Homo sapiens: one gene and its partners. The protein of the gene in region 3 purifies or fractionates together with the protein of the main gene of each other region. This does not show direct contact. Each region holds a gene or a part of one and is shown on either strand. Other genes may lie near its edges.

The links.
Region 1: the proteins of ASPM (region 3) and IPO7 purify together in Homo sapiens (affinity purification with mass spectrometry; 2 studies listed by BioGRID and IntAct, with this or other methods). This does not show direct contact.
Region 2: the proteins of ASPM (region 3) and NAP1L4 purify together in Homo sapiens (affinity purification with mass spectrometry; 2 studies listed by BioGRID and IntAct, with this or other methods). This does not show direct contact.
Region 4: the proteins of ASPM (region 3) and NAP1L1 purify together in Homo sapiens (affinity purification with mass spectrometry; 2 studies listed by BioGRID and IntAct, with this or other methods). This does not show direct contact.

The regions. Positions count from the first base shown.
Region 1 is NC_000011.10:9,387,627-9,394,653, forward strand, and holds part of IPO7 (importin-7), read left to right. Parts: intron 1-7,027. UniProt on the Homo sapiens protein: Functions in nuclear protein import, either by acting as autonomous nuclear transport receptor or as an adapter-like protein in association with the importin-beta subunit KPNB1.
Region 2 is NC_000011.10:2,954,327-2,961,353, reverse strand, and holds part of NAP1L4 (nucleosome assembly protein 1-like 4), read left to right. Parts: intron 1-1,444; coding exon 1,445-1,584; intron 1,585-2,809; coding exon 2,810-2,955; intron 2,956-5,587; coding exon 5,588-5,610; intron 5,611-6,707; coding exon 6,708-6,827; intron 6,828-7,027. UniProt on the Homo sapiens protein: Acts as a histone chaperone in nucleosome assembly.
Region 3 is NC_000001.11:197,094,663-197,101,689, reverse strand, and holds part of ASPM (abnormal spindle-like microcephaly-associated protein), read left to right. Parts: coding exon 1-1,259; intron 1,260-5,525; coding exon 5,526-5,692; intron 5,693-7,027. UniProt on the Homo sapiens protein: Involved in mitotic spindle regulation and coordination of mitotic processes.
Region 4 is NC_000012.12:76,046,664-76,053,690, reverse strand, and holds part of NAP1L1 (nucleosome assembly protein 1-like 1), read left to right. Parts: intron 1-340; coding exon 341-486; intron 487-580; coding exon 581-600; intron 601-3,037; coding exon 3,038-3,160; intron 3,161-3,905; coding exon 3,906-3,935; intron 3,936-4,165; coding exon of another isoform or gene 4,166-4,228; exon of another isoform or gene 4,229-4,440; coding exon 4,441-4,491; exon of another isoform or gene 4,492-5,102; intron 5,103-5,226; coding exon 5,227-5,262; 3' UTR 5,263-7,027. UniProt on the Homo sapiens protein: Histone chaperone that plays a role in the nuclear import of H2A-H2B and nucleosome assembly.

The DNA of each region.
Region 1 (7,027 bases), on a different chromosome or scaffold from region 3:
TTTGAGACCAGCCTGACCAACATGGAGAAACCCCATCTCTACTAAGAATACAAAATTAGCTGGGCGCGGTGGCGCATGCTTGTAATCCCAGCTACTCAGGAGGCTGAGGCAGAAGAATCGCTTGAACCTGGGAGGCGGAGGTTGCGGTGAGCTGAGATCGTGCCACTGCACTCCAGCCTGGGCAACAGAGTGAGACTCCATCTCAAAAAAATTAATTAATTAATTAAATTTAAAACATTGGCTGGGCATGGTGGCTCATGCCTGGAATTCCAGCACTTTGGGAGTCCGAGGCGGGCGGATCACCTGAGGTTGGGAGTTCGAGACCAGCCTGACCAACATGGAGAAACCCCGTCTCTACTAAAAATACAAAATTAGCTGGGCGTGGTGGCGCATGCCTGTAATCCCAGCTACTAGGGAGGCTGAGGCAGGAGAATCGCTTGAACCCGGGAGGTGGAGGTTGCGGTGAGCCGAGATCGTACCATTGCACTCCAGCCTGAGCAACAAGAGCGAAACTGCGTCTCAAAAAATAAAAATAAAAATAAATAAATAAATAAATTTTTTTTTTTTTGAGACGGAGTCTTGCTCTTGTTGCCCAGGCTGGAGTGCAGTGGCGCAATATGAGCCCACCGCAACTTCTGCCTCCTGGGTTCAAGCAATTCTCCTGCCTCAGCCTCCCAAGTAGCTGGGATTACAGGCGTTTGCCACCACACCTGGCTAATTCTGTATTTTTAGCAGAGATGGGGTTTTACCATGTTGGCCAGGCTGGTCTCCAACTCCTGACCTTGTGATCCGCCCACCTCGGCCTCCCAAAGTGCTGGGATTACAGGAATGAGCCACCATGCCCAGCCTATTTATTTATATTTATTTTTTGAGACAGGGTCTTGCTCCATCACCCAGGCTGGAGTGCAGTGGCACCATCATGGCTCACTGCAGCCTCTCCCTCTCGGGCTCAAGCAACACTCCCACTTCAGCCTCCCAGGTAGCTGAGACTACGGGGATGTGCCACTATGCCCAATTAATTTTTGTATTTTTTGTAGAGACAAGGTTTCACCGTGTTGCCCAGGCTTATTTTTAATTTTTTCAGAGCTAAGGCCTTGCTATGTTACCCAGGCTGGAGTGCAGTGGGCTCCACTGCACTACATAGTACACTACAGCCTAGAACTCTTGGCCTCAAGCAGCGTCCTCCCATCTGAGCCTCCCAGGTGGCTGGGACTGCAGACACGTGCTACCACGCCTGGCCTAATTTTACTTAACTTTTCTTCTCCCCACTATAATTTTAAGTTTCTTGAGGTCATGAATTGTTATTTTTTGTTATTGTTATTCCTTGATTTCCCAGTAATAGGCTTTATGACTGACTTCCTGTTATAATATTAATAAATAACAGTATAGGCTTTAGCTCTTTTATTTATTTTTTAAAATTTATTATTATTATTATTAGTATTTTTGTGGCAGGTTCTCACTCGGTTGCCCAGGCTAGAGTGCGGTGGCATGATCTTGGCTCACTGTAGCCTCCAATCCCAGGTTCAAGCGATTCTCAGTCCTCAGCCTCTTGAGTAACTGAGACTACAGGTGCCACCACATCTGGCCAATTTTTGTATTTTTAGTAGAGACGGGGTTTCGCCACATTGCCCAGGCTGGTCTCGAACTCCTGACCTTAAGTGATCCACTCACCTTGGCCTCCCAAAGTGCTGAGATTACAGGCATGAGCCACCACACCAGCCGGTGTTTTTAAATATAATGCCAGGAAGATTTTTATTAAATACTCATTCCGAAGGATAATTCCCAGTCTGGTTCATGTAACAGCAAATGTCTGTGTGCTAGGCACTGAGCTAAGTAGTTAGATGCAGAGAAATTTATGATCACTGCCTTTCTAGAGCTCCATAATCACCACGTCACTGGCCCATACAATACATGTGGTCAGTACTATAATAAAGCTACATGTAAGTTTTGGATGACGAAACTATTAGATCTGATTTTGGCTAAGGTGGATATGATCTCCGCATCAATAGTCTTTCCCCTGTTATATTCGCAGTCAAGAAAAATGCTGTAAGTGGAATTAGAGGGTTTACCCAGGAGACATTTAAACTCTTAGTTCCTAAGCTCAATATGGTATATAATGGTTATATATGTATATACACCTTTTTTTTTTTTTGAGTGGAGTTTCGCTCTTTTTGCCCAGGCTAGAGTGCATTGGTGCCATCCGGCTCACTGCAACCTCCATCTCCCGGGTTCAGGCAATTCTGCCTCAGCCTCCCGAGTAGCTGGGATTAAAGGAATGCACCACCACACACGGCTAATTTTTGTGTTTTTAGTAGAGACGGGGTTTCACCATGTTGGCCAGCCTGGTCTTGAACTCCTCACTGCAGGTGATTGCCCACCTCAGCCTCCCAAAGTCTTGGGATTACAGGCGTGAGCCACTGCGCCTGGCCTAATTTTATATTTTTAGTAGAGACGGGGTTTCGCCATGTTGGCCAGGCTGGTCTCGAACTCCTGACCTCAGGTGATCCGTCCGTCTTGGCCTCCCAAAGTGCTGGGATTACAGGCCTGAGCCACCGTGCCCGGCCTAATGGTTTTATATGTACAGGCAGCAGTGCTACTTTCTCACTTGCTTTATATGAAAAAGTGATCTTGCTTTTGGTAAGTTTCTTGATATTTTGTGTGTGTGTGTGTTTTTTTTTTTTTAACTCACACTACCCTGGATCACTTTTGGGATTGTCACAAAAGGTTAACTATTACTGCTGTATGTGATATACCTTACTTATAAATGGTTCATTTGATTCCATTTTATTAAAAGTATTTAATGAAAATCTTAGGTCTGGAAAAGTGTAAAATAATGGCATATTTGTAAGATAATTTGGAATGTTTAGAAATTAAGCAAAATATTTTAGGAAGACCAGAGTAGCCTGTAGTTTAGATAACATTCCTTCACCAGGAATATTTTGAAGTACTGTTCTGAATTTGGGAGAAGGAAAGTCCCTGGATACTTCGGCTGTTAGATAGCAAGTTATTCAATGATATAGCTTGTTAAAGATCTGAAAGAGTTTGGGCGCAGTGGCTCACGCCTGTAATCCCAGCACTTTGGGAGGTAAAAGCAGGAAGAGGATCGCTCGTCCAGGAGTTTGAGACCAGCCTGGGCAACATACAAAAAAAATTTTTTTTTTTAGCCAGAGCCTCGCTCTGTCACCCAGGCTGGAATGCAGTGGCGCAGTCTTGGTTCACTGCAACCTCTGCCTTCTGGGTTCAAGCAATTCTCCTGCCTCAGCCTCCCGAGTAGCTGGGACTGCAGGCGCCCGCCACCACTCCTGGCTAATTTTTGTATTTTTGGTAGAGATGGGGTTTCACCTTGTTGGCCAGGCTGGTCTTGAACTCCTGACCTCAGGTGATCCACCCGCCTCTGCCTCCCAAAGTGTTGGGATTACAGGCATGAATCACAGCGCCCGGCTGCTAAATGATTTCTAATAAAAAAGTTTTTTTTTAAAGTTCCTAGTTGGAGGTCAGATGCGGTGGCTCACGCCTGTAATCCAGCACTTTGGGAGGCCGAGGTGGGCGGATCACAAGGTCGGGAGTTCGAGACAAGCCTGATCAACATAGTGAAACCCCGTCTCTACTGAAAATATGAAAAATTAGCCGGGTGTGGTGGTGGGTGCCTGTAATCCCAGCTACTTGGGAGACTGAGGCAGGAGAATCACTTGAACCCGGGAGGCGGAGGTGCAGTGAGCCAAGATCACGTCATTGCATTCCAGCCCGGGCAACAGTGCAAGACTCTGCCTCAAAAAAAGAAAAATAAAATAAAAGTTCTGGCCGGGCATGGTGGCTCACGCCTGTAATCCCAGCACTTTGGGAGGCTGAGGTGGGTGGATCATGAGGTCAGGAGATCGAGACCATCCTGGCTAACATGGTGAAACCCCATTTCTACTAAAAATACAGAAAATTAGCTGGGCATGGTGGTGGGTGCCTGTAGTTCCACCTACTCAGGAGGCTGAGGCAGAATGGCATGAACCTGGGAGGCAGAGCTTGCGGTGAGCAGAGATCACACCACTGCACTCCAGCCTGGGCGACAGCAAGACTCCATCTTAAAAAATAAAATAACATAAAACTTCCTAGTTGGAAAGCATAAAAATAATATTTTAAAATTATTTTTATTGTTATTATTTTTTGAGACAGGGTTTCACACTGTTACCCAGGCTGGAGTGCAGTAGTATGAACATGGCTCACGGCAGCCTTGACTCTCCTGGGATTAAGCTATCCTCCTGCCTTAGCCTCCCAACTAGCTGGGACTACAGGCGTGCACCACCACACCTGCCTAAGTTTTTTATTTTTTGTAGAGACGAGGTCTGTCTTTGTTGCCCAGCCTTGACTCCCAAGTGCTAGAATTACAGGTGCGAGTCACTGCACTTGGCTTATTACTGTTTTTTTAACAAAGGCAGAGGGACGCAGTGAAGAGCCTTAGCCTTGTCCTGAGTCTACGACTATAATGACTTAACCTCACTATGCCTTATATTTCATGTAGCCAAGGTAGATGTCATATTTGCCTTTGTCAAATTCTTTTTTTTTTTTTTTTTTTTTTTGAGACGGAGTTTCGCTCTTGTTGCCCAGACTGGAGTGCAATGGCACAATCTCGGCTCGCCACAACCTCCGCCTCCCGGATTCGGGCAATTCTCCTGCCTCAGCCTCTTGAGTAGCTGGGATTACAGGTATGCATTACCACGTCCGGCTAATTTTGTATTTTTAGTAGAGACGGGGTTTCTCCATGTTGGTAGGCTGGTCTCGAACTCCCGAGATCCGCCCACCTTGGTCTCCCTAAGTGCTGGGATTACAGGTGTGAGCCACTGTGCCCGGCTTGTCAAATGCTTTAGTAACAAGAAAGGTTAGAAGTTCCTTGGCTCTTGAAATTACCTGGTTGTATTTAATGTAAAAATCTGATAGCACGGGATTCTTCTACCTCCTGTGTTCCTTAAAAATGGTCTGAAGTATAGTAGCTAATTGAAAGTCTCTTTGGTTATATTTCAATGGAGAGAAATAATACAAAGTTACAGTTTTGGCCGGGTGCGGTGGCTCAGGCCTGTTATCCCAGCACTTTGGGAGGCCAAGGTGGGTGGATCATCTGAGGTCAGGCGTTTAAGACCAGCCTGGTCAACATGGCAAAACCCTGTCTCTACTAAAAATACAAAAATTAGCCGGGCATGGTGTTGCGTGCCTGTAATCCCAGCTACTCAGGAGGCTGAGGTATGAGAACCGCTTGAACCTGGGAGGCAGTGGCTGAAGTGAGCCAAGATTGCTCCACTGCACTCTAGCCTGGGCGACAGCAAGACTCTGTCTCAAAAAAAAAAAAAAAAAAAGTTACGGGTTTGAAGAGTATGTTTTAAAAGATACTGACATTAGTGATTACATTGGAAAATGTGGGTCCAGAGGGAAAACTGATTTTGAAGACATGAGTTACATACAGAGTGTCTAGTTTGAGGAGCTGGTAAACATCAAGTAGAAAAAGTCTAGCAGGCAATTGGAATGTGGAGCTGAAGTTTAGGAGAGAAAGCAGCAATGGAAAAGTGATATTCTTCTGCAGGCAGGTGATTACAGTAGTATGATCCAAAGGTATGGGATGGACTAGAGGGCTAAACTTTCAACCATGCCTATTTTGGGTACTTTGATAAACATCTGAAAAAGCAGACTGGAGATTTTGGGCATAAAAGTAAGAGAGAAGCCAAGAAAGATAATTTTAAGAAGGTTGCTTGTGGTTAGTGGTTAGTTTCCTTTTTCTTTTTCTTTTTTTCTTGAGACGGAGTCTCACTGTTGCCCAGGCTGGAGTGCAGTGGCACAGTGACAGCTCACTGCAACCTCCGTCTCCTGGGTTCAAGCAGTTCTCCTGCCTCAGCCTCCCTAGTAGCTGGGATAACAAGGCAACCACCACCACGTCCGGCTAATTTTTTTATATTTTTAGTAGAGAAGGAGTTTCATCACGTTGGCCAGGCTGGTCTCGAAGTCCTGACCTCAGGTGATCCACCCTCCTCGGCCTCCCAAAGTGTTGGGATTACAGGCGTGAGCCACCACACCAGGCCTAATTTCCTTTTTCTTACATAGATTTAATAAATTCTCTACCAAAGAGCATGAATTACTTTTGAAAATGAGTAAAAAATTTTTAGAAAAAAGAAAGGGGTGTTGATACTCCTAAATGAGAGAGGTTAAACAAACTGAAGACTTTCTGGGAAAATGCATTAAAGTATCAGTAACCTTGGAAAAGTAATTTCTAATTTTTTTCTTTTAATTTTTTTATTTTTTTGAGACAGTCTCTCTCTGTCTCCCAGCTGTAGTGCAGTGGTGCTATCTCGGCTCACTGCAACTTCTGCCTCCCAGGTTCAAGTGATTATCCTGCCTCAGCCTCCCAAGTAGCTGGGACTACAAGCGTGCGCCACCACGCCCAGCTAATTTTTGTATTTTTAGAGATGGGTTCCACCATGTTGGCCAGGATGGTCTCCATCTCTTGACTTCGTGATCCGCCCTCCTCGGCCTCCCAAAGTGCTGGGATTGCAGGCGTGAACCATCGCCCCCAGCCTTTTAATTTTTAAAATTATTATTAATTTTCCACGCAGTCAGAGGGGAAAGCAATTTCTGATTACAGTGTTAGTGAGTGGAATGCTAGTAAGGGGGCAGGGATAAGATTGTAAGTTAAAAGGGTGGCCATATTGGGAAATTCGTTGATGTGAGAGTGTGCGTTTTTCTTTTTCTATTTTTTAAAGTTGAGCTTATTTTGGGTGGCAGAGAAAGCAGCAGGGAAGCTTGGCTGTATAGTAGAATAGGGGCCTAGGTTTTTGAGGCCTGTTGCTACTACCTGTTGTACTAATAGTTTTTCATTCATGTTTTATAGTCATCATTCCTTGAATTACATTCTTCATTACATTCTTCACAGTGCTTCAAGAACTCATTTTCCTATAGCATAAATCTGATCATGTATAACCCTTCACAAAAAATTCATACTCTTTAAATTTTTTGGCCACAACCTACCAATTCATTTTTATCTTTCACTGTTCAA
Region 2 (7,027 bases), on a different chromosome or scaffold from region 3:
CTCTTGCCAAGGCCAGTGGAGAGCTCCTAGCCAGATCCTGCTGTCATCCCTTCTAGAAACCGACTAGACTGTCTCCCTGATCCTGACTTCCTAAGCCCTCATGCCCCGCCTCCTCCTCCACCTTTCTTTGAAAGTTGTTTTTTCACTTCTCCTTTGTGCAAGTGGTTTGTTTGAATGTATAAACTTTTTTTGCTGTATATTTTTTTTAGTCCTCTTAATTTCCCCCCCGTTGATGGTTTTACCATTACAATGAAAATGGAAACAGCTGACATTTAGCCAGCCTTGCCTATAAACGCGGCTCTAAGTGATACAGATTAACCACCAAGGCAGCTCCTAGAGAGGGAGAGAGTTATTTCCAGTGTAGAGATGAGGAAACTAAAGCACGGAGACATTGAGTAGCTTCCGCGAGTTGCCTAGCAGTGTAGGCAGAGATGGGATTTGAATCCAGGCTGTCTGAGCGTAGAACTGGTCTTGTAAACTGTCTATAAATTACTCAACCAAGCGCATCTTCCATGTTTTTCTTCTATAAATAGGGATGAGGTCAATGTCTTTGCACATATCGATGCATCCATCCAGGTATTTTTCTCAAATAGAACAAATTCCTCAAAATAGAATTACTGAGTCAGGGAATATGCCTTTTAATTTAATTTTTTTTGATATTGCCAAATTGTCCTTCATAAAATCTGTCGACAGTACATGAGTGTGCTCAGTACCCCAAAATCCTGGCCGGGTCTACATATTTTTGTACATTTTGCCCCAAAGAAAGGCATCTCATTTTGGTGTTCATGTGTTTTGTTACTCGTGAGCATGAATGCCTTGTTGCTGCTGTTGGTTGTTCTATGCCTGCGTTCATGTTTGCATCCTTTTTCCCGGTGTGCTCACGTCTCTTCCAGGTCTGTAGCGTGCTTTGTAAGTGAGGGATGAGCTTTCTGTCCTTGTAGAGATTTGTCCTTTTCTCCCACCCACCTCCCGGGAGAAAAGCTGTGGGTCACTGCTTTCACTGCACAGCACAGAGTAGAGACCCTGGCTTCCCCCAGCAGGGTGGGGGCTGGGGCTTAGGCTGAGCGGAAAAGGACAGGAGGAGGATGGACTGCTGGTCCCCTTACTTTCCCCTAGTCACCTTCCCTCCTTCCAGGAAGCAAGGGCTGGGAGCAGCTAAGAGAAGCTAGGATTTCTTAGGAGAGCTTGACGCCTATTGGTGAGGAGGCATTGGAGGGGGAACATGCCCCTTACTCATGAACTGAACAGATATTTCCCGCCAGTCCATCGTTGGTTTTTTTAACCTCACGCTAGTCTTTTTTGCGGTGGAGAAGTTTTTCTTGTTCATGGCCCTATCTGTTGAGCTTTCCCAAAATAGCTTCTAGTAAGTGTTGTGTACTCCAAGCAATCTGTCCTCGTTATTTTTCTATTTTAACTGGTGCTTACTCTGAATTTCTACTTTTAGTCTTTTGTGTTAGAGTTCCACTTTGAACCCAACGACTACTTTACCAACTCAGTCCTGACAAAAACCTACAAGATGAAATCAGAACCAGATAAGGCTGATCCCTTTTCCTTTGAAGGTCCTGAGATTGTGGACTGTGACGGGTAAGAAAATGTCATTCTACCTTGTTTTTCTGAAACAAAATCAAAAGATAATTTTGTAACTTGATGGGTAAGATAGAAGTAAGGAATAAAGTACAGTCTTGAGTCTGCTTAAAAGCCTAAAAGCCTGGTAGATGTATATTTCAATAGTCTTTCAGTTTGGGAATGCTCATAGTGCAGAACTTGGAGATGGCGGCTGAACCTGGGAAATGAGTCACGTGGTTGCACATGCAAGCCTTTGGGATAGTGCCCTGTTTCTTCATTTTAATGAAAGTAGTGGATTCTCTAGACATCGTGAATTGAAGTTCTTAAAATTGAATCCATGGATTACCCTCAGCAAATAAATACTTATTGAATGAATGAGTCTGAGTCCAGGGCTATATTGATCAGCTGATTGCTTTGGAAATAGGTGGGGGCAGCATAGCTGTTGTTTGACTCACTGATTTCAGTCTTTATAAATCACTAAAGAGAGAATTTGGTTTAGAATTAATTTCTCCAGGTTGGGTTGACTGAGAAATGGTTTTAGTCTTGACTTGAAACAATTACGTTTATTTACCAGAAGTAAATAGTAATTGTTAATTCAGGACTTTATTAAAATCCTGCTAGAGTAATTTAGAAAGATGATTTTCCAGGGCCAGGACATCATGTGAGAAAAAGGCCTGGCCTTACCAAGCATGTTCTTAAGCGGGCAGTATTGAGATCTGCCAGGTGTTGCCTGGGTCTGTGGTGATTGTGTGTTAGAGAGAGCGTGCTGTGCTCAGCCCTCGCCAGCATCCCTGGGGCTGGAGTGGTCTGCACTGGCCATCAGTATTCCCGGTGGCCACCTCTTTCCTTTTTTCAGCTTGTCGTGCTCAGTTGGCTGCTTTGAACAGCAGCAACTCCTCCTTCCTTGGGAAACCGCGGACAAGTTCTTGTGCATCATGCAGACTTGACGGGGCTTTGCCACAGAATATACATTTCAGAGTCCTGATGAAATGTCTTGGGAAAATAATACCATTGTTCCAGAAGTCTGAAGTTCCAGTGGTCACACCCAAGTTGAAAGAGGACCAGGCTGTTTCTCTTTTTGCCAACCTCCAGATGAACTTCATGGGCCATTGTATTTGGTTTGCAGATTGGTTTTATTTCGTTTTCCAGGTTTGGCATAGAGCTGTGGTTTGCTTCCTGCATGCATTTGTAATGGATTTTTCTCATGGATTGTGTGTTCCTGACAGCTGTCTTGTCCTGGTAGGTGTACTATTGACTGGAAGAAAGGAAAGAATGTTACTGTCAAAACCATCAAGAAAAAGCAGAAGCATAAGGGTCGAGGCACTGTTAGAACAATTACGAAACAAGTACCCAATGAGTCCTTTTTCAACTTCTTCAATCCATTGAAAGGCAAGTCTGTTGGTTGTTAATATTCATTATGTTCTTATATAAAATAATTTTGGTCACCTGATAGATTCCTAACACCCAGAGACTTTAGTCCTCTTTTTTCAGGCAAGTGTGGTCAGTAGGGGCACATTGCTGTGTCCCAGGCTGTTCTGTTGGTGCGCTGGCAAGTTTATCGCGGGGGGCAGAGGTAGCTAGGACAGTAAGAGTAGGATTGTCATCTTCTGCAGGAAAGGGAAGAGCTTTACTCTGCTTGGCTGTAGCCCAGGCAAAAACTTGCAGTTCTGTTTTAAGAAAACTGAATCGAGTATTTGCACCTGGGCTGCTTCCTCACTTGGACACCTGGAGCACCCTTCTCCACCAGCTGGCATTTCTGCCCCGCTGTTGTGTCTGGTTCGCACCCCCCGGGGACCACTCCCAGCCTCGGAGAGCTGCTGGGTTTGCTCTGCAGGTACCCGTTACTGCTGTACGCTGGTTCTAGTTGTGCTGCTTTTGGATCATCTGCTTAGTCCCCCTTTTCTTGTAATTTTTTATGCATAATTTGATAGAATTTTTTGGAATTTATATATTGTAAGAAACACAAGTAGTTGGGACTTTCATTTTTGAAAAACATCGGCAGAATCACAGCTTGGAAGCTGCTTCTTTTTGTTTATTTATTTATTTTTTAAATTTTCCTAAGTGGTAAAATAAAGATGAGACCTTTGAGCTAGTAAAGGTTGACCAATTGATTTTAAGAGTAAATTTCTTGGGATTTTTCATATAATTTCCTAATCGCGAGAAAATGTGAAGGTCAAGCAACTTGTCAGTGTTAAAATATCCATATTCTCTTTAGTTTCCATGAACTAAAACATAATTTGAAGTGAAGAGATGCCAGCCCCTGCTGCAGATAATCAGTGAGTGTTTGTTTGTATGTGGGGCCACAGGGCGGATCTCTTCTCCAGTCTGAGTGATTGATTTTTTGATTTTGTCTCTGAGCTTAGCACCCTTATTTATCAAGCTGCCCTTCAGAGTTCAGTCCATTATTTTAATTGTGGTGCCTATTTTCTGCAATTAGACTTTGAACCTAGAAGATGCAAATACATACGGTTTGGGGAATGAGAGCAGTCATAAATTTAGATATTACATTTCCTTTTTTTGGAAGATTCCTTTTAGACACTTGGGTTGGGCATACTGGAGATTGTCTGTGAATTCAGCGTGAAGAAGGGAGGCTTTAATTTCTGGAATCACTTTGTGTAGGAAGTTCTCTTAAAACTGATTTAAAAATAATTTTTAGGATAAAAATGGAGTTGATAATGGACTCAAGGGAATTTTTAAGTGTTTTTTTTTTTAGATTCTAAAACTTTTAGGGTATGATGGTTGCACAACTCTAAAATTAACGTACTGAAAGTCATAAAGTTGTACATTTAGAGTGTATGCCTTTTAATGGTATGTAAATCCCATCAGTAAAGCCACTTTTAAAGTAATCAAACACATAATACCAAATGGTAAGTGCTTTGAAAAAAATTGAGGATGGCTGCGGAATAGGTAATGGGGTAGTGAAGGAACAGACAAAATGGACTCCTGTGGTGTGAAGTGAAGGAGGCATTAGCTAGTGAGTCCAGCTCCTTTGTCCTTAAAACTGCAAAGCCAGTCCAGAAGTATGAGTGTTCAGAGTCCTTGTACTATTCATGACTTGGGCCAGAGTGCCCTGGGGAGCATGCTGCTCCAGCATTTAGACACCCAGCCATGCTCCTAACCCATGTCTAAAACCCCTGGGTGATGCTGGCACACCGAGGCTTGGGAACTCTGCCTCACTCATGGGTGGTGTTTACGCACCCAACATTCATGTCTCAGCAGCAAACAGCAAGTGCTGCCAGGGTTGTGGTCGCTTAATGGGAAGGGAGACTCAGAGAGGAGAGCCCAGTGAAGATTGAAAAGGCAGGTATGAGACTAAGCAGAGTAAACATTCAACTCCTGATGAAGCTCAGGGTCTTGTAGTAAATGTTTCTAAAATCAGGGGGTTGGATCTTCTACCAGTTGAACGTTGCACAGCTTCATTGAGTGTGGTTAGAAGTCCCTATCTGTCTTGGTGGGCTTAGCTCGTCTGAGCATCAGCTTTCGCTGAGGAATTGCGCCACTCTACAGGGGCCCCTGGTGGGCATTCCAGCACTCTCCAAACAAACAGAAATGCAGTTTCTGTCTCGCTGATTTGCAGTGCCTTAGTAACACTCACAGCTTATAAGGCTTAAGGACTTTCTCTTTCCTGCACCATCATGTATAGTTCTGCGGGACATGAGTTAAGTTTCCCCATAAAGCACAAATGCACTGAATGGCCACAGCCTGGGGGCTGTTTGCCATTCCTCCTGTTAATATATTAACTCTCTCAAAATGATCTTCTCAAGCTTGAGTGCCAGCCCATGGCACATGATGGAGGAGGAGAAGGGAGGGGGGCATAGAGGCACTCAGGCCAGCTTCAGAAGTGGTGGATGGAGCTTGCAAAGATGTCTGTGAGGAGATGCAAGGCTTTGGGGATTTCTGTTAAACCTCGAGGTGAGAAATGTTACATTTTATCTACCAGCACAGCTTCCTCCTGTGTGGGCTTTAAAATTCTGGGAGTTGTCACTGTAATTTAAATATGTTTTGTCTTTTCTTTTTCTAGCATCCGGGGATGGAGAATCACTGGTAAGATTTGTTGTTAATAGTCTTATTTTCCTGTTGAAGTCTCTCCTGAGTGAATGTCTACTTGTCTACTTGTTAAAAAAAGTCCAGTCCTGGCTGTGTGTGGACTGGGTATGCCAGTGATCTTAATGCTTTGGGAGGCTGAGGTGGGAGGACTGCACGAGTCCAGGAGTTTGAGACCAGCCTGGGCAACATAGCACAACCCCATCTCCACAAAAAATTAAAACCAAATAAATTAGCCAGCCGAACATGGTGGTTCACGCCCGTAATACCAGCACTGTGGGAGGCCAAGGTGGGTGGATCACCAGAGGTCAGGAGTTCAAGACCAGTCTGGTCAACATGGTGAAACCCCGTTTCTGCTTAAAATACCAAAAAAAAAAAAAATTAGTTGGACACGGTGGCAGCGCCTGTAATCTCAGCTACTCAGGAGGCTCAAGCAGGAGAATCACTTGAACCCGAGAGGAGGAGGTTGCAGTGAGCTGAGATTGCACCACCGTATTCCATTGGGCGACAGAGCAAGACTCCGTCTCAAAAGATAAAATAATAAATTAGCTGGACATGGTGGTGCACTGTGTAGTTCCAGGGTCGCTGGGGCCCAGGAGCTTGAGGCTGGAGTGAGCTGTGATTGCACCACTGCCCTCCAACCTGGGTGATAGAATAAGACCCTGTCTCTTAAAAAAAAAAAATCCATTTCTGTTTCCTAAAACTCTGGGATTAATTTGAAATCATTACACATCTAAGTAAAAGTATGTGTTTCATATGTTGATTTCAGTAGCAAATGTGCAGTGCTTTAATACTGCCTGTTTCCCATATGTGAGACTGATACCGCCTACTCTGGGTGAGACCTTTGGACAAGTTGTGGAGCTGTAGGGCCCTCACTTCCCACTTTCTCTGCCATTTTGCTTCAGTAGCTCTTTAAAGCTACTTAAAGTTGTTTTAAAGGGGCTTTGAGTGTCTAGTGGCTGTCCCCCAGCAGTGCAGGAGTTTGGTGTTTTAAGTTAAGTAAATCAAAAGTGAGGGGCTGAGGTTTGGCTGAGGGTGGTGAAGTGAATGTTTTTATCCCATTAAAATGAGTTAACACGTAGGTTTTTCCTCCTCAGGATGAAGATTCTGAATTCACATTAGCCTCTGATTTTGAAATTGGACACTTTTTCCGTGAGCGGATAGTCCCGCGGGCTGTGCTGTACTTCACTGGGGAGGCCATAGAAGATGATGACAATGTATGAGGCTCGGGGAAGGGGGGCTTCCACCTGGGTGCTTATCTCTGTTGGTGCAGAGTGGCCCTGAATTGTGGCTTAGGAAACCCCCATGCCTAATCTTTTTATTACATCATCAGCCAGATATGTAGTCCAAGCTGCTGTCCTTGTTGTGGGGGGAATACGCTTGAAGAGGAGAAGTCTGAGGAACAGAGCAGGAAAAG
Region 3 (7,027 bases):
AATTACAAAGAGAAAATTATATCAGACAATGGCATTCTGCTGTGGTTATTCAGGCTGCATATAAAGGAATGAAAGCAAGACAACTTTTAAGGGAAAAACACAAAGCTTCTATCGTAATACAAAGCACCTACAGAATGTATAGGCAGTATTGTTTCTACCAAAAGCTTCAGTGGGCTACAAAAATCATACAAGAAAAATATAGAGCAAATAAAAAGAAACAGAAAGTATTTCAACACAATGAACTTAAGAAAGAGACTTGTGTTCAGGCAGGTTTTCAGGACATGAACATAAAAAAACAGATTCAGGAACAGCACCAGGCTGCCATTATTATTCAGAAGCATTGTAAAGCCTTTAAAATAAGGAAGCATTATCTCCACCTTAGAGCAACAGTAGTTTCTATTCAAAGAAGATACAGAAAACTAACTGCAGTGCGTACCCAAGCAGTTATTTGTATACAGTCTTATTACAGAGGCTTTAAAGTACGAAAGGATATTCAAAATATGCACCGGGCTGCCACACTAATTCAGTCATTCTATCGAATGCACAGGGCCAAAGTTGATTATGAAACAAAGAAAACTGCAATTGTGGTTATACAGAATTATTATAGGTTGTATGTTAGAGTAAAAACAGAAAGAAAAAACTTTTTAGCAGTTCAGAAATCTGTACGAACTATTCAGGCTGCTTTTAGAGGCATGAAAGTTAGACAAAAATTGAAAAATGTATCAGAGGAAAAGATGGCAGCCATTGTTAACCAATCTGCACTCTGCTGTTACAGAAGTAAAACTCAGTATGAAGCTGTTCAAAGTGAAGGTGTTATGATTCAAGAGTGGTATAAAGCTTCTGGCCTTGCTTGTTCACAGGAAGCAGAGTATCATTCTCAAAGTAGGGCTGCAGTAACAATTCAAAAAGCTTTTTGTAGAATGGTCACAAGAAAACTGGAAACACAGAAATGTGCTGCCCTACGGATTCAGTTCTTCCTTCAGATGGCTGTGTATCGGAGAAGATTTGTTCAGCAGAAAAGAGCTGCTATCACTTTACAGCATTATTTTAGGACGTGGCAAACCAGAAAACAGTTTTTACTATATAGAAAAGCAGCAGTGGTTTTACAAAATCACTACAGAGCATTTCTGTCTGCAAAACATCAAAGACAAGTCTATTTACAGATCAGAAGCAGTGTTATCATTATTCAAGCTAGAAGTAAAGGATTTATACAGAAACGGAAGTTTCAGGAAATTAAAAATAGCACCATAAAAATTCAGGTATTTCTATATTTAATTTAAATATAAAACTGTGAGTCTTTCTTTTGACCAATATTTGTTAGAATGTATAAAATGAGCTTAAGCAGGTCATAAAGAATAGTACTTAGTTGAGGTGACCATTTATCTTCCAAAGTGGAACATTTTTGAAAGAGGGAAAGGGCACTAGTAAGTCAGCCAAGACAGCACAGAACGGGGATTGTTCTGGCCATGGTCACCCTATGTGTGGTGCATTTCAGTATGGGTTAATTGTAGCACTCTTAGAAGAATTTTGAGAAAATAGGAGTCCTGTATTTGGCAAAGTTATTTCTTTAAGTGGAAAATATAAGCTAAGATAAAGTATTATTTGGCATAATATAGGCAAAATAGAGTAACTTTGTTCCTCTAATAATCTATTAACCAGAGCTGTTTGCTGCTTAGGCTAGTAGACATACTTTATTCTGAGTGTTTAGTACTTTGGCTTCCAAATCAATTTTGTATTATTTTGTTTTGTCTATTTGCCAAATGTGTGAGGAATGTACAGTATTATCTCTTTTAAAATATGAAGGAAGTGATAAAGTTTAAGTAATTTGGCCAATGTTGCATAGAGAGAGGCAGATCCAGGAACTGAATCTAAGTACTTCAGCTATTTCTTTTTACCTGCAATAACCCAGGCTTTAACCCAGATGTGATATGTTCATATCTTACTGGATTACTGTTAAATTTAGAAATAATGTTTTAATTCAAGAAATGTCAAGTGCTAGAAATGTGCCAAATGCTGTAGTGGGTGTTATAAATAGACAATGAGTAAGATATACTTAGTTGCTGTCCTCAAGGAACTTAATTGAACAAGGAAGTATAATTATAATACAACATGAGAAGTGTATGTTTCAGGAAACACAGAATGGGAAATCAAGCTAGTCTCCATGGTCAGAGACTTCCCAGAGTGAGTAACATTTAAGTTGAAATGTTACACTGAAGTATGAATTAGAAATAGCCCAGTAAAAGGTATAGAAGAATATTCCAATTGCAAGAGATAACGTGGAAAAATCAAAAAACTAGAAACAATAAAAAGTGATATGGGACCAGGTTGGCAATAGAGGGAGTAAGATTGTGGATAGATTTTTAAGACAGAAAAAATTTAGTCTTTATGCTCCAGACAAAACAAATTCTAGAGGAGTTTAAGCAGGAGAAGACCACAGTCATTTTTATTAAAAAAAAAAAAAAAATTACTCTGGCAGGAATGTGGAAGATGGACTGGAAAAGGAGCAAGACTAGAATCAGGTAGACCAAATGAAAATAGGCAGTAAGCCAGGTGAGAAAGAGTTATAGTTCAGTGTAGGTTTGTGACAATGGGATTGTAAGTTGGCATTATATAGAGCATGAACAAGGAGGCAAGCCATGTTGATGGCTTAAGTAACTCAGCAGAGTTACTCCCTCACACCCTGACATAGGGAATAAAGAGGGAAGAGCAGGTTTTGAGATTGATGATGAATTCAGTTTGGAGTATATAAGATCTGAAGTACCTAGCAGGTAACCCCCTTGAAATATCTAGTAAGGCAGTTGACTATGTTTGTCTGGAGTTCAGGAGAGTAGTGTGAGTATTAGAATTTGATTTGTACATTATGGGCATATGCTAATAATTAAAGTTCTGGGAATAATGAGATCACCAAGGAACAATACATAAAATGAGTGAACAAAGAGGGCCTGGGACTTGAGCCCTGAAGAACATCAAAATTCACAGACATTGACAAGAGAAGCCAACAAGGTGTTAAGAGGGAAAGAAGAAAGGTAAGAGATTAATGGTATCAAGAAACCAAGGTGTTAAGAGGGAAAGAAGAAAGGTAAGAGATTATGGTATCAAATTCCTAACACTACTGAGAAGTTCACAATTGAAAGGTGTTCATTGGATGTATTAGTTATGGTTTTATTCACTTAAAATGATTAAATAGCCAAAATAACAATCTTATAAAAATTTTTTTCTCTTACATAATTACATAATAAAATTGTATTTTACACATATAATTTTTAGCCTATGCCAGTGGTCTAAAACTTTACTGCATATTGGAGTCACCTGGAATTTTAAAACATACTCCTACCTTTAGATATTCTAATTGGTATGGGAAGCAACACAAGCGTGGGATTTGTTTCAAAGCTCCCAGGTGACTCTAATGAGCAGCGAAGTTTGGGAGCCACTGGGATATAGTATACATTACTAAATACTTACATATATATGTAAATATGTATGTTTTATATATATATATATATCAACTTCTCTGTAGCATTTGGGATTTAAGCACACTTTGTTTCTTCTCTCAACCCTTGGTTTCTTGATACCATAATCTCTTAGCTGTCTTCTTTCCCTCTTAACGCTATGTTGGCTTCTCTTGTCAATGTCTGTAAATTTTGATGTTCTTCAGGTGTGATGTGTGTGTGTGTATATATATATATATTTGTAAATATATATATACACACACGTATATCTATACATATATATAATTTTCTCATTAAAACTTTGTTTTAATGGGTCTCAAAATTCTGTGACAGATTTTCGGTCAATTTGTTTTCATTAAAAAGTACTGATTTTAAAAACTAGTAACTTATAACTGCCACAAGCAAAACAAAAACAAAAACACCAAAATGGTCCACAAAACATTCTCCTTTCCTCCTGAAGGTTTTATGATGCAGTGTTACCATTAACCAGTCTTTTACTGTTACAGTTAAATGGCCAATTGAAACAAACAGTTCTGAGACCATTCTTCTACCACTGATTAAGACTGAGGTGGCAGGTATTGGGGATATACATAAATAATGTATGCAGATTTACATAAAAACCGTATACAATATAGTCTGAATGAGTTAAGGTCATCTCAGAGTAATTTTGGCCATATATAATTATTGCATTATCAACTGAATTTAGAACCTAATCTAAATATACGTTGTGCCTATAGTATTTGTTGTGCTGCGGGATAATTAAGGAATCAGAGAGACCGAGGGATTTGAGGAGGAATTATTTAATTATTTATGTGCACCGACCCAGTCGGATTAACATCCAAAGAGGACTGAGCCCTGAACAAAGAGTCAAGCTACCTTTTAAGCATTTCGTGGGGCATGGGGAGATCTGTGCAGGGGGAAGCGTATTACAGAAGAGAGAAACAAAGACAGTTATTCAAGTAAGAGATGCATTACATTATTTCTTACTTTTTAAGGAACAACATGTTTTACAACTTGAGATTATCTGTCTAGTGTCCTTGCAGCTGCACAGCTAGAGAAACAGTCTTCACAATGCCTGGGAAAGGGAGAGATAAGGCTCACTAGCCACAGAGAGAAAAACACAGTTAATTTTAAAGGACTCCAGCCCTTTCTCTTCCCAAGGGGAATTGGGTTTTCTTACATACAACTGAGTTTTTGCTTACACAGTCTTTAATTTCTTTTAATTCCTCTTCCTGTAGGGATGTTGGAGTCAAATAGACTTGGGTTCAAATCTTGACTCTGTCACTTAACAGCTATATGCTAACAAGTCCTTCTTAATTTCAATTTTGGATTTTTTTCCTTTTTTATAAAACAGAGATCTTAACCATTTTATAAGATATTTATAAATATTAAGTAAGACAACTCTGCCACTTATTAACCTGTGTGACATCAACAAGTTACTCAATTTCTCTAGGCCTTGATTTCCTCATCTCTAAATTAGAGATAATAGTATTATCTACCCATGTGATTATTAAGGACTAATCTTCTTAGTGCTTAGTTCAATAAGTTGTAGCTGTCATGTAAACCTTTAGTCTTCCAGAAGGTTGTCAAAATCAGAAAGTCTGACAGTCCTATCACAGGAGCTCTCAGGATTCTCCTGCAGGCTGAACACAGAACCCAAAGTGAATATGGATTGGGAAGAATTCCTCTTTCTCCCCAGAACCTGCAGTAGGTCAATGTGTTCATTTTCTTTTCTTCCAAATGGATTGAGGTGATGAGGATAATTTACATAATGTGGGGCTTTTCAGACATGTGTGTCTTACAATTTATAAATACTGGTTAGGGTTTTGTTAGGCTGGGCTGGCAGCCAGCCATAAGGTATGTGTGATAAAGCACATAATACGTGTTCACTATAGTAAGCACCACTGTTCTCAGAAGACTCATTACATGTCAAAGTCTAAAAGAGTCATGATATGACTATGCAATTTATTTTTGTCTGCACTAACCTTATTTTAACTGTCTTTATACTGATTTGTCTTATTTACAAAAAAAAAGAGACAACTCATTGCATACTTGTTATATTTATGTATTTAATAGGCTATGTGGAGGAGATATAGAGCCAAGAAATATTTATGTAAAGTGAAAGCTGCCTGCAAGATTCAAGCCTGGTATAGATGTTGGAGAGCACACAAAGAATATCTAGCTATATTAAAAGCTGTTAAAATTATTCAAGGTTGCTTCTATACCAAACTAGAGAGAACACGGTAATGTATCATAGTTCTGTGGAGAGTGTAAAAGTATTTGTGTGTGATAGCTAAGTCTTTACATAAAATAACACTGCTTATTGATTTTTATTTTAAATATTTGTTATGCTTAATTTATATGGTTGGTTTTGTTGATATTTTCTTTATTAAGGAAACAAAATACATCTCTCGTACTGTCTTGCTTTTTTGAGATAGAGCATAGCCTTTAATTAATATAATCTAAAAATATTATATACTTGATTAATTCAGGTTCATAAGGATTAGAGTAAGGACAGAGACGTAGGAAGTGAATAAAATCATTTAGTTAAGACTTGGTTTTCTTATTAGTGCTTTGGGCCATTTTGCTGGGTGACTTAACTACTGGCAAAATTTGTTTTCTTACTCATTCTTTTTTTCTTTGAACTTTGTATTATTCCTCATACTCTTTGTCATTAATGATGAAGACCCTAATTACCAACCTGTCTATGCTAATTGTATTTCACTATTCCTAGCTTATTTCTCACACACACATTTTCAGAAGCTGTTACCAGATCATCTTTTTTTAAGTTCATAGTATAAGAATTTTTCTTCAGCTCCCAGAGTTGATGAATTATTGAATCAATGATGGTTTTAAAGATGGTTTAGGAAGGCACACTAGTGTGAGAGGAATTTTTGGATGAAGCCCATGGGTAGAAGCAGGGCTTAACATATACAGTTGATCGCATGAAGATAGAAGTAGAATGTTGGTTACCAGAGGCTAGGATAGGGAGAGGGGAGGGGTGGATAACGACAGGCTGGTTAATGGGTACAAAAATACAGTGAGAAGGAATAAGATTTACTGTTTAGTAGCACAATAGGGCAACTATAGTTAACAATAATTTATTGTATATTTCAAAATAACTAGAGGAATAGAATTAGAAGTTTCCTAATAGAAGGAAATGATAAATGTTCGAGGTGATGGATATCCCATTTACCCTGATTTGATCATTACTCATTGTGTGCTTGAATCAAAATATCACATGTACTCTGTAAATATTTACAACTATTATATATCCATAAAAATAAAAATTAAAAAGCATATAAAGATACAGTTGCTACTATCAGCTATTAAGGACCAGTATCTAATTTTCCTGTAACAGATGCTGAATTTTTCTCAATGGTGTTTGGTCCTATTTTCTAAGAAACATGGCAACAAAACAAGCTACTCATTGTACTTTTTCCACATTATCAAGAACAGAGTAGAAAACCTGTCCATTCTCACATTTTATCTCTTAGTATTATGTTGATCCCTAAAATTTAATCTCTAGTGCTCAGATTTTTTAAAATTTTTCTCCAGTTCTGTTTACGAAATATCTC
Region 4 (7,027 bases), on a different chromosome or scaffold from region 3:
TTACATATGTACATAGTCTGTCTCTGAACATTTTGGTAATATGTTTTCTGAAAAGTGCTTATCAAGTTTCCTGTAATTCTCCTTGGACCCATGACTGTCTCACATATATTTTTGCAGAGGAATGCTTCTTTAAATTATACTATGTGTTTGTGCTAATTGTAAATGTGTTTATTTTAAATATTTGCTTAGAAATAAAATTTTTCCCTTTATACTGCTATAGAAAACATTTGAAGCAATTCACCCTTCTAAAATTTGAAATCTAAATAGAACATTTACTTCTAAAAGTTTAGCAGTTGAAAGATTGTCAATTGTAATAGATTTTTCTTCTTTGTTTTGCAAGGTGCCAGATAGATTGGAAAAAAGGAAAGAATGTCACTTTGAAAACTATTAAGAAGAAGCAGAAACACAAGGGACGTGGGACAGTTCGTACTGTGACTAAAACAGTTTCCAATGACTCTTTCTTTAACTTTTTTGCCCCTCCTGAAGGTAAATAATGTTTTAGCTTGAGTATTAACGGTTGTTTTATAAAAAGCATTGCTTAGCTTCTTATTCATTGTAATTTCTTTTCTCAATTTTGCAGTTCCTGAGAGTGGAGATCTGGTAAGTTGAATTGTTATATATTTATTGAATTGTTAAGTATATTTGAAATTAAAGCACTGAATTTCAAAAATGGAGAGTGGGATGGTTGTTACATTGAGTTCTGAGGCCTACAATGCATGGGGCAGACTTTTTGGATATGAAAAATAATTCCATTCAAAATTATATCAGTGCTTCTGCTGAGAAACACTGAGATAAAAAGCTTAAGGTTTTCTTTTCTTTTGAAACTTCACATATTGCTGTGAGGGATTTAACTTTTCAAAACTGTTGTCTTCCTTAGTAAAACCAGAATATATTAAGTCACTTATACTGTTACATTCCTAACTACATTATGGTTCAAATTCATTCCTGAATTTGTTACTCCAATGTAAATATGGTTTCATATTGTGACTAAGTATGTTCACATATATGGCATATGGCAAAGAACATGAAATGTTCCTGCCATATAGACTGAACTGAGGAACAACCTTAAAGAAAGTCTATACACACAAGGTAGGGCAGGTATGTTTTGAATTTGGTTTTCTTTTGGGCATGTTTTTGAATTTAAATTAACTGAGATAGTTTAAATAGTTTGTACATATATGGAATTAGAAATTAACCTAAACTGAATACTTTTGAATTGGAATACTCTTGGCTAAGACTTAGAACAAATTTGTAAAAGGCAAAAGTAAGTATTTCTGGCTTGGCTTATAGGACAAAAAAAGAGAACATAAAGCAGTGTGAATTTCAGGTGAGAAAAACTACTTTAAGTATTAAGATAGAGCATCACACTATTTTCATATCAGTGGATGGGTTGGAGTTTGTGTTCAAGTTTGGGGTTTTTTTTTGTTTGTTTGTTTGTTTGTTACTAAATATTGATGATGACAAAACAGTCTAGTTAAGGATAGAAAACCTCCACCTGTGGTTTGAATTCCTCCCCACCCCCTTTTGGATTTTTCTATTTATTAGATTATGTTGTTGACTCAAACATTCATGGAATTCACAGAGGGTGTGCTCATTGTTTAGTATCATAGAACTTGTATCATTGTTTAGTATCATAGAAGTGGGATTATTTTATTTTATTATTATTATTTTTTTTTTGAGATGAAGTATTGCTCTGTCATCCAGGCTGGAGTGCAGTGGTGCGATCTCCACTCACCACAACCTCTGCCTCCCGGGTTCAAGCAATTCTCCTGCCTCAGCCTCCCGAGTAGCTGGGATTACAGGCACGTGCCATTGAACTCGCTAATTTTTGTATTTTTAGTAGAGACGGGGTTTCACCATGTTGGCCAGGCTGGTCTTGAACTCCTGACCTCAGGTAATCTGCCTGCCTTGGCCTCCCAAAGTCCTGGGATTACAGGCATGAGCCAGGCCAAAGTGGGATTATTTTAATTGTGAATAATGTCAGACCCACTTTTGCCCTGTGCTTTTCTATTAAATAGAAATCCTAAGCCAGGTACAGCTTCAGGCACCTGTAGTCCCAGCTGCTCTGGTGGCGGAGGTGGAAGGATCACTTGAGGCCAGCCTGGGCAACATAGCGAGACCCTGTCTCTAAAAAAGAAAAGTGCTAGGGGCACCTGATTTAGTTAGTATATTGTCTTTCTGAACTAGGACTGTCTCATTTGGGATTAGTAGACTTAAAACTGTACAGCTGTTTGGGTACTGTCTTTTAGGAACTATAAAGTGATCCTCTGTGGTTGTTTATTATGTCCTTCTATTTGCTATGTACTTAACAATATTAACAATAACTATATATTAACAATAACCCAAGGGTTTTTTTTTTTATTTTTCTATTTGGTGTTTTCAATAATATTTTAAAAGGAAAATTGCGGACATGTAACAGTTGCTTTTATGTATTTATGTTTAAACCAGCAAAAACTAAGCAGTTCTAATTTTTATTCTTCACAATTTATCTTAGTATGCATACTGGCCTGCTAGCTTATTTTCTTTTTGTTAAAAACTTGGAAAAGTTATTAAGGAAATTTAAAAATGACAAATCATTTGTTAACATGGTGTGAGAAAAATCATGGAAAGTAAAAAGTAAAGTTGAGCATTTCTTCCCTTCATCATATAATTTAAACTGAAGAGTCTGTCTTTTTTTTTTTTTTTTTTCGGTTGCCCAGGCTAGAGTACACTGGTGTGATCACAGCTCATTTCAGCCTCAAGCTGCTGGGCTCCAGCAATCTTCCCACCTCAGCCTCTCAAGTAGCTGAGACTACAGGCGTGTGCCACCCTGCCCAGTTAATTGTTTATTTTTTGTACAAACGCAGGGGGCGTCTCACTATGTTGCTTAGGTTGCTCTTGAACTTCTGGGCTCAAGTGATCCTCCTACTTTGGCCTCCTGAAGTGTTGGGACTACAGTTGTGAGCCATCACACCCAGCCTCTAAGAGTCTTACATGTGCCAAATTAAGTAACACAGTTATTCCTAAATTTTCTGCTTTTGTTTTCCTTTAAAAATAGGATGATGATGCTGAAGCTATCCTTGCTGCAGACTTCGAAATTGGTCACTTTTTACGTGAGCGTATAATCCCAAGATCAGTGTTATATTTTACTGGAGAAGCTATTGAAGATGATGATGATGATGTAAGCGAATTTGAATCCTGCAAAGAAATAATTGGTTGAGGGTATAGTGGTCAGAATTGGTAATAGATTAGTTTAGTTTTTAAGAAGCAGGACATAATATAATTCAAAATTAGGCTAATTACTGATGTTCTGTATATAGCTTTTCTGGGTTTTAAGTATGTCTCCTTAGGATTTTTGGATTCATTTATCTTAGCTTTTAATTTTCTGCTAATAAGATTGTTCTGAGTTTATGAAACTTTTTTATGTTTGGTTAGTGCTATAGATCTATTATGCCCTTGCCTTGACTTCACAGAGCTAGGACTTTCTTTAGTGCACAAGAAAACATTTACTGGGAGGCATAGAATTTCTATTCAAGGTAGTATTGAATGATGGTTAGGTTAAGATTAGGTTGCATATAGATGTTTTGAATATGTTTATTGCTCAACGGCAATTGTTAGAGTAGGCTTTAGGTCCTTTTCGTACAGTGCATTCCACACTTAAGTGTAGGTGAGTAATATTTACAGTAATACTTGTCTGATCATCCACTTTATCCACATGATTGTACTCTGTTCTTTAATTTTATAAATTGGCAGTGAGCAGAGTGATTCTTGCAGCTACTATGTGTTTTAATTTATAATCAGCCCCTTGATAGGAAAGTAGGTTTTCTCTTTTTAGACACTAGTTTATACAGTGATAAATGTTACTGATGCTACTCTGAAATGTGTGTTACATTCACTCAACACTTAACGCTGTTTTTCCTTTTCAGTATGATGAAGAAGGTGAAGAAGCGGATGAGGTAATGTTTACCAAATGAGCAAATAATTCTCTGTGGTTAACACATTGAGAAGCAAATTGAATGACTTATGTATTCCTTTGCTATAATCATTCTGTGATTTGGGATAAAAACATTTTGGAAAACATGATTTTAGAATTCTACAGCCAAACAATGTATGTATAAGGTTTCAATAAATAAATTGCAAAACTCAGCAACATTTTTTTATTTCAAATAATTTTGTTCTGCTGCAGGGTTATCAGCTCTTTGAAGAAGTCAAAAGCTGCAGTAAACTTTTCCAACGTTGGCTGCAGTAACTATTTTCAATAAAAGCTGTCTGGATGTCTCAAGTTGTGTTGGGAAATTTTTCATATTAGAAGCTTTCAAATTAAATTGTATTATCATCAAAGTCTGTAATCATGAAAATCTGTTGATCCGTAGAGTAACTTGTATTAAATTTTCCCTACATTATGAGCCAGTTTACCTACTATGTACATACTTCATGGATGCATTTTGAACTTTAATATAGGAAGGGGAAGAAGAAGGAGATGAGGAAAATGATCCAGACTATGACCCAAAGGTGAGCAAAATTAGTGCTGCTTTCTATTAAATTTAAGATAGCTAAAGTAAGAGTTGGTGTTTTTGAATATCAAGTTTCTCTCCGTTAAAGTCTTTAATAAATAAAGCCTATTGACTGGATAACTTTGTTTTTTCAGTCCCACTGGCATTGTGAACAGTACACATAATTTCAGTGGACGTTTTTCTAAAAAACATTGTTTTTTGTTTGGACTTCGTGCTTTTTATAGTTTCAGGTACAGTGAACCCTAGGATTCTATTTTAATGGGACGATTTGTAACAGTTTTTAAGCATTAGAAAATAAAGGTTTTTAAAAGATCTGGTTGTAGGAGTGTTCGGGAACTGGGGAGCAGTGCAGTTTGTTAGATCCTTCCAACTACTCTTACTCAGTCCCTGAGAGTCCTAGTCTATTATTCCTGAGAATTTGTTATATTAGGATTAGCAAAAACAAAGCTGATTGGTAATATAACTAACATAAATTGCTTGGTAACTTTATTTTTTTAAGATTATGGTTTAGCGTGTGTCACATTTTATGGAGTTAATTCTACAGTGTAAAGTTTGAGCTTGATTTTAGCATTTCAGTGACTTGCTAATAAAATAAATAATTTACCACCATTGTCCTATACCATTTCTTTTGACAACAGTGAGCTACTGTTATAATTAAGGCAGTAATTACTATTGAGAAATTCACTGAAGCAGGTAGAAGAAGATAGATTGACTTGTTGTTTTCCTTTAACAGAAGGATCAAAACCCAGCAGAGTGCAAGCAGCAGTGAAGCAGGATGTATGTGGCCTTGAGGATAACCTGCACTGTAATAGCCTAAACACAACTCTTATTTACTTACAGCCTTATGTTTTTGTATTTTCTTGGTAGACTAGGTAATTTTTTTTTAAAGGACAGGAAACTGATATTTTAAAGACCAATTTGTTCTACCTAGCATTTTAACTAGTTTTTCTGCCAGCTATGTTGAATGCACAAATTCTGTCACGCATGTTCATTCATTGCTACATAATTTGGTTCTTCTGGAATATTTTTATGTAGCTCTTGGAGTACAGCTATGAAAATTAACAACTGTTAAAGGAAATACCTTTTTTTTTTTTTTGTAATTTTTTCCTTGAAGAACCAAAGTATTTTTTCAGCTGGTTGTTGAATAGGGTTAAGTCCGCTTGGATTAGCTGTGCCTTTCATTACTTTGTTACAGAAATGCAGTGACTTATACTAAGACAATTTATTGTTTAAAAAAAAAATTGGCAAGACAACTATATGGTTAAGAATTTCCAGTATGACCACACCCAATAACTGTTATTAGAGTGTTAATGGATTATTGTGTTTTAGGTGACATAGTTAACTGTAAAGTAACCTGACTCAGTATAGTTACTGGTACCACAGTGAGGTGAATAAAACGGGATTTTCAGAAGTTAGCCTGAATTTAACTGTATTTTTAAATTTAACCTCCATTAACTAAGCATCTTTTCTTTGTGGTAGGGTCTACCTTCTGCTTCCCTGGAAAGGATGAATTTACATCATTTGACAAGCCTATTTTCAAGTTATTTGTTGTTTGTTTGCTTGTTTTTGTTTTTGCAGCTAAAATAAAAATTTCAAATACAATTTTAGTTCTTACAAGATAATGTCTTAATTTTGTACCAATTCAGGTAGAAGTAGAGGCCTACCTTGAATTAAGGGTTATACTCAGTTTTTAACACATTGTTGAAGAAAAGGTACCAGCTTTGGAACGAGATGCTATACTAATAAGCAAGTGTAAAAAAAAAAAAAAAAGAGGAAGAAAATCTTAAGTGATTGATGCTGTTTTCTTTTAAAAAAAAAAAAAAAAATTCATTTTCTTTGGGTTAGAGCTAGAGAGAAGGCCCCAAGCTTCTATGGTTTCTTCTAATTCTTATTGCTTAAAGTATGAGTATGTCACTTACCCGTGCTTCTGTTTACTGTGTAATTAAAATGGGTAGTACTGTTTACCTAACTACCTCATGGATGTGTTAAGGCATATTGAGTTAAATCTCATATAATGTTTCTCAATCTTGTTAAAAGCTCAAAATTTTGGGCCTATTTGTAATGCCAGTGTGACACTAAGCATTTTGTTCACACCACGCTTTGATAACTAAACTGGAAAACAAAGGTGTTAAGTACCTCTGTTCTGGATCTGGGCAGTCAGCACTCTTTTTAGATCTTTGTGTGGCTCCTATTTTTATAGAAGTGGAGGGATGCACTATTTCACAAGGTCCAAGATTTGTTTTCAGATATTTTTGATGACTGTATTGTAAATACTACAGGGATAGCACTATAGTATTGTAGTCATGAGACTTAAAGTGGAAATAAGACTATTTTTGACAAAAGATGCCATTAAATTTCAGACTGTAGAGCCACATTTACAATACCTCAGGCTAATTACTGTTAATTTTGGGGTTGAACTTTTTTTTGACAGTGAGGGTGGATTATTGGATTGTCATTAGAGGAAGGTCTAGATTTCCTGCTCTTAATAAAATTACATTGAATTGATTTTTAGAGGTAATGAAAACTTCCTTTCT